Regions from separate parts of the Homo sapiens genome. Here region 2 is linked to region 1. The links come from fine-mapping of genetic effects on gene expression. A gene starts in region 1. The other region holds a variant in brackets. All regions are shown on one strand. Distances are between the middles of the regions. Region 1 holds the start of CROCC (ciliary rootlet coiled-coil, rootletin). Region 2 holds the start of TRG-CCC4-1 (tRNA-Gly (CCC) 4-1).

Region 1 (5,375 bases):
CCTAACAGGCCTGGGACAGATGGGAACAAAATACCCCTGGTGCCAGGCACTTTATTCTATTATCTCCTTGATTCCTACAATTCCACGTCCCATTACAATCCCCACTACAGAAAACAGGCTTAAAGAGCATAGTGATTTGCTCAACGCCACTCAAGGTGGCAGAGCCTCAATCCAAGCCCAGGCCAACCTGACTCCAGGGCCCATCTTTTGCCCCGTGTGTGGGCCTGGTCTAGATGCCTCCCTGCCCTTGAACGAGGGGAACCCTGGCCTAGTCCACCACCTGGGCGGCACCCACCCTCTCGCTGACCGCATTGTACTTAATGGCGAGCTCATCGCGCTCGGCACGGCTCTGGGCCAGCAGGTCCTCCACGCGGGACAGCTCCTGCTGCAGCAGCTGGTTCTCCTCCTGCAGCGACAGCAGCGATGCCATCTCTGTGGCCGGCAGCAGGACTGGCAAGGGACAGTGGGCACATGGTTGGCTTCTGGGTCCAGTGGGACATCCTCCCCCCAACAGGGAGGGCAAGAAAACCATCCAGGCCCCTGGGAGGAGTCCAGATGGGAATGGCTGCAGCACCAGGCCTGCAAACAGAGCTGAGAACAGGGAGGAAGGCAAGGAGGGGATACAAAGCTGGACGTAAAGTGAACACAACTCCAGCTAAAGTGTGGCCCAGCAGGTTTGGGAGGTGCAGGAGAGACACTCAGTCTAGGAGCCAGGAGACCCCTGAGTTCTTGCTCCCTCCTTTTCCAATTAGTCTTCTTCTCCGGGGCCTCAGATTTACTTATCTGTAATATGGGTGGGGCGGGCACGGACTCACGCCTGTAATCCCAGCACTTTGGGAGTCGAGATAGGAGGATCACCTGAGGTCAGGAGTTTGAGACTAGCCTGGCCAACACGGCGAAGCCCTGTCTCTACTAAAAATACAAAAATTAGCTGGGCATGGTGGTGTATGCCTGTAGTCCCAGCTACTTGGGAGGCTGAGACAGCAGAATCACTTGAACCGGGGAGGTGGAGGTTGCAGTGAGCTGAGATTGCGCCACTGCACTCCAGCCTGGGCAACACAGCGAGACTCTGTCTCAAAAAAAAAAAAAAAAAAAAAAAAGGTAGAATAGTAGTAACCAGATCCTCCCAGAAAAGCATCAAAGCCTCGCTCAAGAGAAGGGCTTCATGGAACTTTAAAGGCTAGGGCTCAGGAGAGCATAGCATAGGTCAGGTTGTGAGGAGAAGGAGAAAGAGAGAAGAGGGAAAGAAAGGCCAGCGGGAGAAGCGGGGTTGTCCACCTCCTGTGGGTTCCCCTTCTACCCTGGGAGAACTGGACATACACCCCAGGTGTCAGGGTGAGGGCCCTCTGAGTCTCTCCCTGTCTGGGGCTCCAGGGCGCCAACATCCCTGGCGCTCCCAAGGAGGGGGCCCGTCTGTAGCTTGGGAGTTGAACACAGACAATGGTTAGAGCACCAAAACGCCACACGCCAGCACACCAGCTGCAACTGAGTGTGCCTTTCCCAGATCCTCAAGCCACATAACTACACCGTGTGCGCCACCCACTGAGAGGAGCAGGGACCATCCGCCTTCCTGCCCACGTGGGAAACGGATGGACGGCGCCATCCACTCAGACTTCCGCAAAACCCTGGTCTGAGCTGAGCTGCCCTCTTCCTGTATCTTGGGTTCAGCCAGCTCACACCTTCCCCGGGTGGGAATACGGGATTTGGGGTTCACATCTCTGCAGCAGGCTACAGGCAAGCACGCAGGAGATGCTCGGCCCTTCCTTCTAGTTGCACCACATGCGGAATAAGTCTGGACAAATTACATCCCTGAGCCTCTGTTTCCTCATCTGTAAAATGGGTTCTTCTGTCATAAAGCTGTGCCTGCCCCACAGTGAGTTACAGTCATGATCATCATGGTGACTGCTCAGGAAAGGGACATGAGAAGAGGTAAAATGTGGGTGGTGTTTGTGGAGGGGAGCGGATGGGGGTGGCACCTGGGCTCTCAGGCTGGGAGAGGTTGCGGGTGACAATCTCCCTGATAAGGGCAGGCAGGCTGGTGATCTGAGCGTCCTGGGCCAGGTCCCGCGCGCCCAAGCCTTTCTCCTGGCACAGGACGCTGCTCTCCAGTGTCTGTGGGAAAAGCGAGAGGGTCTTCAGGGGACATGGGACCCGGGGCTCCCTGGCCTCGTGGGGAGAGCCACAGAATCCTACTGCCCAAGATACAGGTCCCCAGGAGCCCCCTCAAGATGGAGTGAAGCCTGGGAGTTAGAATCCAAAAAATCCCCATGCAAAGAGCCTCTTGTGTGCTCACTGCCCCAGGAAGAAGGCCCAGGGCCAGAGATGAGAACCAAACCCTACGGGTAACTCCCAAACCCCACTGGAGGCAGTCCAGTGTTGGGGGCCCCAATCCGGTTCCGACCCTAGATGGATGAGGATCTGGCTATGCCAGAGGTCCCCCAAGCCCTAAAATCTGGCAGTAGAGACCCCCTTCTCCCAACCCAGGGCACTGGGATGAGGGAGCCACAGCAGGTGCACCCTGTGTGTACCTCTGCCCCCCATCTTGCCAGGAACTGCAAGCGGGGGGCCCCTGTATACCCCACCACCACCACACCTCTCCCACCCCTTGATCCCCAAGACGCACACACCTCTCACCACTCCTGTTAAGTCCACGCTGCCCCGCCCCAGACAGGGTGGGCACAGCCCCCAGGACCCACCTGGATAACCGTCTCTAGTGTCAGCTCCACCTCCTGTGCCCCCGCCAGCCCCAAGCTCATGGGGGGGAGGCTGTGGGCATGCCTCCAGCCCCCTTCTCCAGGACCCCAAGACTAGCTCAGTCAGCACGCGCCACAGCCAGGATGCTGTGCTGAGCACCAGGCAGATTAAGCTTAAATCCGGCGGCGCCCCCATGTGACCACCGCGGTGGGAGGAGCAGGATGTGGGCTGAGGAGGGAGGGGATGGGAAAGGACAGGAGAGGAGGGAAGCAGAGGCAGGGAGCCAAAGGAAGAGGAAGGATGAAGAGAGGGGAGGAGAAGGGAGAGAAAAGGAGGGAGGAGAGAGAAGAGGGAATGGGAGGAGGAAACAGGGGAGACACCTGGAGGTCAGGACCTCACACACTCTTCACCCTGCGCAGGTTGCTGGGTCCTAGAGCCCTCCAAGCCCAGGGGGTGGGGTCAGTAGCCATGCGGCGGGAAAGGCCAGAGTCCTAAGTATTTGTGACCATCTTTCTGGCCCAGAACGGGAGTCACATGGTTAGCTAAGAATGAGAGGATTTACAGCATGCTGGGAGTATGTTTTCCCACAACAGGTGTAGGGCAAAGAATGCAGGCTGTGAGATCACCCAGGCCAGGCTTGGCACTTAGTTGGGCATGAGCGGTCCAGCCTGGACTGATGAGCATTTATGCAACACCTGCGGCATTCCTAGGTCTGACCTAGACACAGTGGTAGAGCCTCGAACTACAAATGCCCTAGCCTTGCCCTTCAGGCACTTATTGGGAAGCTTCTGGCCCCTTCACACCCACCCCAGCCCCCACTAGCTGGGTGCACCAGGGACACTGACTTTGCCTCTCTGAGACTCAGTGTCCTCTTACGTAAGATGTGATAATATTGGTACTCATCTCTCGGAGCCGTCCGGGGATGAAACAGTATCGTGTGTGCATACCCAGCACATGACATGGTGCTGGGGGGTCACGTGGCCAACACTCAAGAAATACTCATTTCATTCATTTGAAAATCCAGAAGGTACAGTCCCAGCCAGGCGCAGGCACTCATGCCTGTAATCTCGGCATTTTGGGAGGACAAAGCGGGTGGATCACCTGAGGTCAGGAGTTCAAGATCAGCCTGACCAATATGGTGAAACCCCGTCTCTACCAAAAATACAAAAATTAGCCGGGTGTGGTGGTGCACACCTGTAATCCCAGCTACTTGGGAGGCTGAGGCAGGAGAATCGATTGAACTCAGGAGGCAGAGGTTGCAGTGAGCCAAGATCGCGCCATTGCACTCCAGCCTGGGCAACAAGAGTGGAACTTTGTCTCAAAAAAAAAAAAAAAAAAGGCACAGTCCCTATATCCCAGGGCCCTGAGACCCAGAGGTCACCCACCACCTCCCATTGTTCTTTCCCTGGGGCAAGGAGGCTATGTGCTCTAGTGCTTAGGCGCACAGCTCTGGAGTCAGTATCAGGTCTGAGGTTGCATGTGAGACTCAGCTCTGTCACTTGCAACTATGGTGTTCAAGACAGTAAGACCTTGAACAGGTTACCTCCCTGAGCCTCAGTTTTCTCATCTCTAAAAGGAGACTAAACCAGGCCAGGTGCAGTGGCTCAAGCCTCTAATTCCAGCACTTTGGGAGGCTGAGGCGGGCAGATCACTTGAGGTCAGGAGTTTGAGACCAGCCTGGCCAACATAGTGAAACCCCATCTCTACTAAAAATACAAGAATTGGCCTGTAATCCCAGCACTTTGGGATGCTGAGGCAGGCGGATCAGGAGGTCAAGAGATTAAGACCATCCTGGCCTACATGGTGAAACCCCGTCTCTATTAAAAATACAAAAATTAGCTAGGCATGGTGGTGCACACCTGTAGTCCCAGCTACCTGGGAGGCTGAGTCAGGAGAATCGCTTGAACCTGGGAGGCAGAGGTTGCAGTGAGGCGAGATCATGCCACTGCACTCCAGCCTGGCGACACAGTAAGACTCCGTCTCAAAAATATAAATAAATAAATAAATAAATATAAAAAAAATTAGCTGGGGCGTGGTGGCATGTGCATATAATCCTAGCTACTCAGGAGGCTGAGGCAGGGGAATCACTTGAACCCAGGAGGAGGAGGTTGCAGTGAGCCGAGATTGTGCCACAGCACTCCAGCCTGGGTGACAGGGCAAGAGTCTGTCTCAAAAAAATAAAATAAAATAAAATGAGACTAGACCGAGTGTGGTGATTCAGGTCTATAATCCCAGCACTTTGGGAGGCCAAAATGGGAGAATCGCTTGAGCCCAGGAGTTTGAGACCAGCCTGGGCAACATAGCGAGACTCTGTCCTACCAAAAACAACAAAAAAATGCGACTGATAGTACCTACCACACCTGGCAGGTGGTGAGCTATTAGCCAATGGGGGCCACTGTTCCTATTGTCATTAGCATCACGTGTCTGGGCTCCTGCCCTTAGAGTTGTAAGCCCTAAAAAAGGACAGGAATTGCTCACTCGAGGAGCTCGGCTTTTAAGACACAAGTCTCCTGAAGTTCCCAGCCGAATAAAGTTCCTTCCTTCTTTAACCTGGTGACTGAAGAGTTTTGCCTGCGGCTTGTCCTGCTACACTGCTATGCCTCAGCCCTCCGTCCCTGGGTGCCCTCTGCTCCATGCTGTGCCCCAAAGGGGGCATATTCACATTATCTCATTAAATCCTT
Region 2 (5,375 bases), 240 kb after region 1:
TAATATAGGATCAAGACTGCTCAATGGGGAGCATGGAGAGGAACACACAGGGCTGGAGATGCCATGGTTACAACTCTAGAAACTTCACCACTCATGGAATGTGACCTGTGGGGCAGGGGAGACATCTCTCTGGTGCTAAGAGGGAGTAGGGGACATGACATGGAAGGGCCTTGTTATAGGAGGAAGAGCCGTGAGCTAAGAATTGCAAGACATCGAGGCGCTGAGGCCAAAGGGTCCGTGAGGAAACAGGCGCAGCTCACGCCCCTCGGCCTACGGGAGGGAGGGCAAGGAGGGTTCTACGGTTCCTGGGAGGACGAGAAGAGCCAAGAGCCCCGACGGCCGGCGCCGGGGAAAAGGCCCCGAGGCGGGGTCCGCATCCCTGGAAGGGCGGCGTCCACCCTCCTGAGAGGCACGGGGCGCCCAGGGCTCGGAGGCTCAAAGCCCGCCGGCTCCTGCAGCTTCTGGGAGCCGAAGAGTGTCAGCCGGGAGGATCCCGCACACGGCGCTTAGTTCTGGAACTGCATACCCAGGGGAGGATGCGGGAGCCCGAAGCCCGGGTATGTGTCCCCGAAGCCCGGGTGTGGGTCCCCATGGTTTTCGTGTTGGGGGTGGGCGCGGAACGCTAAGCCTGGGCCTATTGGGAGCCATAGTCTTCTTGATGGCTGGTGCTTATTGGGCTTTTTTCAGTCGAATTTCGAAATGCAGTTGAATTTCTTACTTTGGAAACGATAATAGAAATGGCTGATCTAAGATTTTCATGATGATATTTTGCCTTTTTTGGTGCATATGCAGTTTCTGTGGTGTAGTGGTTATCATGTTCGCCTCACACGAGAAAAGTCCCTGATTCGAGACTGGGTGGGAACGTCGTGGTTTGTTTTTTTTTTTGTTTGTTTGTTTGTTTTTTTGGTCCCTAAATTTTGTGAGTTTAATCGAGGTTGGGAAACAAACAGAAAAGTATTTGAACCTGTGGCTACATTTTAGACCTCCTCAATCTAGACAGATTGTTGACCAGGTACAATTTCCACTGGTCTGCCAGCAAGAGGCCTGCTTAATATTAGCTTTGGTTCCAGAAATTCCTTAAGATTCTCTTTATTCTCTTCTGTCGCCTGAATTTTCACAGGCTGACACTGAAAGTGGATGACATCTTAGCGCATTTCCTAAGGGTCCCGCTTGGTTTGGCTTTACTCTGGTAAGTTGCAGATCTGGCTGATTTGCAAGACAACAAAAACAAAATATTTTTTAAAAAGGTTCTAAATCTGCATCTGGAAGTCATAGAGTCCATATTCCTAAATCACATGAATTATGTATATACATTTGCATGCATACCCCTTCCTCAAATAATCCTCAGAAAACCGGTTAAGTTTTAGCATCTGTGACTCAGATGCATATGAGGCCTTGGTAGATTTAGAAGTTGAGAGTAGAAAGTACAGGTTTGTATTTTAGAAGGAGATTTGGGAATAAATGTAGCTTTGGTTGATATAGATCATATGTTAAGGTTTGTTGGCCAGAGCTGGTGTGTGTCTTGGGTGTTGGGCAAAGAACAGAGAACAGCCAAAGCTCTGCGAGGTCAATGTGAAGGATGATTTCCTTGGTGGGCTCAAGTTTATGACTCAGCCTGGACCTAGCTTGGCTTCTCAGCTTGAGAAGAAGCATGATTCCATGTCACAGCTCCTGTCTTTGAAAAAGTCATAATGACTCCCAGACCCAACATGTGGAGAAAACTCTGGATTTGTCTCTTCAGTTGAATGTCTCCATTGAAAATTGAGGAAAGAAATCTCTCTAATATTTGAACTTCATCAAAAGACTAATATGTTAATATTTGACCGTCAATATTTCCTTAAACTAGTCTACTGCTTACATAGCTAACACATCAAAGCATATTAACTTAGGAAATGGGATTCTCCCAAACAATGAAACATTGACGGCAAGCGTTCTTCATCTTTTCACATCACATTTCCTTCAAATGCTTTATACATCTTCAAGCAGACAAATAATAGTATTATAATGATTACGAGACCGATCATTACTCTTTTGCCAAAAAAAACCAACGACAAAAGACTAACTTAGTGGACCAACCTTTGTTTCTTCATTATCTCTACCGTGGTTCTGTCCTTTTATTTCGTCTTTCTTCTAATTCTGCTTCTGCTTCTTATTTCCTCCCTGGATTTGAACTTTACTTACCTAAACTACCAGTTAGGTTACCTTCTCAGAACCTCTAAGGCAGCAGTTTGAGGTTGATGATGGAAGATTTAGGATTAGAAAAAAGAAACATGAATGAATTTCTGATGTTTTATTATAGGGGTTTGTAATGCAGGTAGAAAGACCTTTTTCAGAGTTAAGAGTTTGATCCGACAAATGAGCTATTTTGATATTTATAACGTTGTCTAATAAAAGTTTCCTATAAAAACACATTTGGTTTGGATGTCTTTGTTAGCTTTTAGTCGACACTTGAAAAAACCGCTTAGAACAGTTTCTAAATCTTTGTGGTTACTCTTTTCTGTTATCCTCCAGGGGGTAGTTCCAGAGAGGCGTTGGTGGTTTAGTGGTAGAATTCTCGCCTCCCATGC[G/A]GGAGACCCGGGTTCAATTCCCGGCCACTGCACGTGGTTGTTTTTCACTTCGCTATGGCTCTTTACTTGTCTTTTACGCTGAAAATTATACTGCATAACCCAAGAGTGCATTTAGGGGCTTGGCCACCACAAGGTAAAGTGACAACAACACTCACCAAAGTAGCGGCAGGAGACTAACCCAGGACCCCATGCAGTTGTTGGACTCAAACAGCTTAGCAAGCTGGCAAGCATGAAGTGTCTCTGGTGAGTCACTGCAGTTTTGATACTGGTACCTGTTACTTTCATTTATTCACTGGAAGGATCCCTGCAAACCCAAAGAACCATCAGTTTCCTGATTCGCGTGCTGGACCTTGGGCTTACCGTTGAGCCACTATGGAGAGGATCAAGAAATGACACTCTTGGAAGGAGAGAAGCTGCGGGCAGGACAGTCACCTCAGAGGTCCAAGAGTTGTCATCGGCCCAAAGAAAGGGGAGGTGTGTGGGCAAGAATCTGCGTGGAGATGAGGGGAGCGGCGGAGACTGGTCCTTGCGCAGAGGTGGCCAGTGAACCCTCAGGGCTGTACCCCAGACACCGTGAATCGAATTTGCTCACATCATCAGCGACCGCAGCCCCCGCGTGTTTTGTGGGCCCATCGGTGTTCCGCGAGGGATTCCGTGTGTCTGGCAATGTGTGTCAACAGGTGTTGGCCTGAAATTTGGCCGGGCACGTTGGCACACGCCTGTAATCCCAGCATTTTGTGAGGCCAAGGCGGATGGATCGCTTGAGGTCAAGAGTTCAAGACCAGCCTGGCTAACATGGAAAAATCCCATCTCTACTAAAAATACAAAAATTAGCCGAATGTGGTGGCATGCACCTGCTATTCTTGGGACGCTATACTTGGGACGCTGAGGCAGGAGAATCGCTTGAACCCAGGAGGCAAAGGTTGCAGTGAGCCAAGATCGCGCTACTGCACTCCACCTGGGCGACAGAGCGAGACTCCGTCAAAAAAAAAAAAAAAAAAAAAAGCAGCGAAAGAAGGCAGAGATGTCAATGGGACAAAGAGACCTCCCAGGAGGCTTGTTGTAGAGGCAGTGGCTGGATCCTGAGAGAAGAGATTTTTTTTAAATTATGTAGCAGAATGGGGAGAGAAAGGGAGAAGCACATGAAAGACAGAAAAGCACAAAAATCTGCGGACGTCCTAGAATAAACCAGATAAAATAGTGTGAGTGTTTTTACATTAAAAAAATAGAAGAAGTGCAATGGTTGTCAGCAGACTTTGTGGTCGTGTAGTGGTTAATACTTGTAGTTGTGGTTGCCACAACCTCTGTTCTAATCTGAGTCACAGTAGTGTTTTCTATCCTGCAACTGTGGCTAATAGACCTGTCGTTTGCTTTGCCTTTAATCCTAGCAGCCTCCAGAGAGCACAGGAAACCTCTGGCCCTGAAGGGCGCCAGCTTCTGGAGTTTAGCCCACAGCGCAGAAACTAGGGGGCGGCCTGGCCTATAGGAAAACTTGGACATGCTCTTTGTCTCACAATTGAGCAGGAAACATTCCCGTAGGTGAAGATGCCGCCTCTCAAGGGCCCTCTGTCTGTAGCTTCCAGTGATGAAATAATGCGGTTATAGTCTTTTTCGGTAGAGAAAACGGCTGTATCAGTGGAATTTTTTAAAAACACAAAATGAGAACGAGTTTTTCATGAGTTGACAATAAAATCTAAACTAGTTGTCATGGTTTGCACCGGCTTGCCTCCATTCCCCATCCGCTAATTTTTATGAGAACAGTAAATTATTACTATTATTATTATTATTGAGATGTAGTCTCGTTCTGTCACCCAGGCTGGAGTGCCATGGCTCAATCTCAGTTCACTGCAACCTGTGTCTCCCAGGTGCAAGCAATGAGAACAGGGATCCAGTTTCAGCTTTCAACATATGGCTAGCCAGTTTTCCCAGCACCATTTATTAAATAAGGAATCCTTTCCCCATTTCTTGTTTTTGTCAGGTTTGTCAAAGATCAGATAGTTGTAGATGTGTGGCATTATTTCTGAGGGCTCTGTTCTCCTCCATTGGTCTATATCTCTGTTTTGGTACCAGTACCATGCTGTTTTGGTTACTGTAGCCTTGTAGTATCATTTGAAGTCAGGTAGCGTGATGCCTCCAGCTTTGTTCTTTTGGCTTAGGATTGACATGGCGATGCGGGCTCTCTTTTGGTTCCATATGAACTTTAAAGTAGTTTTTTCCAATTCTGTGAAGAAAGTCATTGGTAGCTTGATGGGGATGGCAGGGAATCTATAAATTACCTTGGGCAGTATGACCATTTTCACGATAGTGATTCTTCCTACCCATGAGCGTGGAATGTTCTTCCATTTGTTTGTATCCTCTTTTATTTTGTTGAGCAGTGTTTTGTAGTTCTCCTTGAAGAGGTCCTTCACATCCCTTGTAAGTTGGATTCCTAGGTATTTTATTCTCTTTGAAGCAATTGTGAATGGGAGTTCACTAATGATTTGGCTCTCTGTTTGTCTGTTATTGGTGTATAAGAATGCTTGTGATTTTTGCACAAGAATTTTGTATCCTGAGGAGTCATTTTTAAAATAAATATATTGCAAATGACTTTTCCCAGTCAGTGAAAAGTCTGACTGAAAGCTGTCAACTGAAAAATCACACAATTTATAAATTTAGAAGGGAGATTTTATTTTTTATAAAGGGTTACAGCCTGCAAGGTGGCCATTCTGACAGACAGGGAGGCATACCCTCTTGCTGCTGAAACCTGAAAAGTACGTTTCCAGGGAGGGGAGGGGGGAACAGGGATTTATGTTGATGTGGTGGGCCACA

Evidence for each region. PIP is the estimated chance that this variant, and not a neighbour inherited with it, causes the effect.
Region 2: its variant is fine-mapped to the expression of CROCC in spleen (GTEx, PIP 0.96).

Annotation. Positions count from the first base shown.
Region 1 is chr1:16,919,400-16,924,774 of GRCh38, reverse strand. CROCC (ciliary rootlet coiled-coil, rootletin) reads right to left here and starts at 2,844. Exons shown (of 37, transcript NM_014675.5): 1 at 2,697-2,844; 2 at 1,977-2,112; 3 at 296-450. The coding sequence starts at 2,756. RefSeq lists enhancers at 320-930, 1,114-1,885, 1,886-2,657, 2,658-3,429, 3,430-4,202.
Region 2 is chr1:16,675,495-16,680,869 of GRCh38, reverse strand. TRG-CCC4-1 (tRNA-Gly (CCC) 4-1) reads left to right here and starts at 2,529; the gene lies at 2,529-2,599. RefSeq lists a silencer at 3,791-3,940 and an enhancer at 3,971-4,020. The variant G/A (reference allele first, on the strand shown) is at 2,568.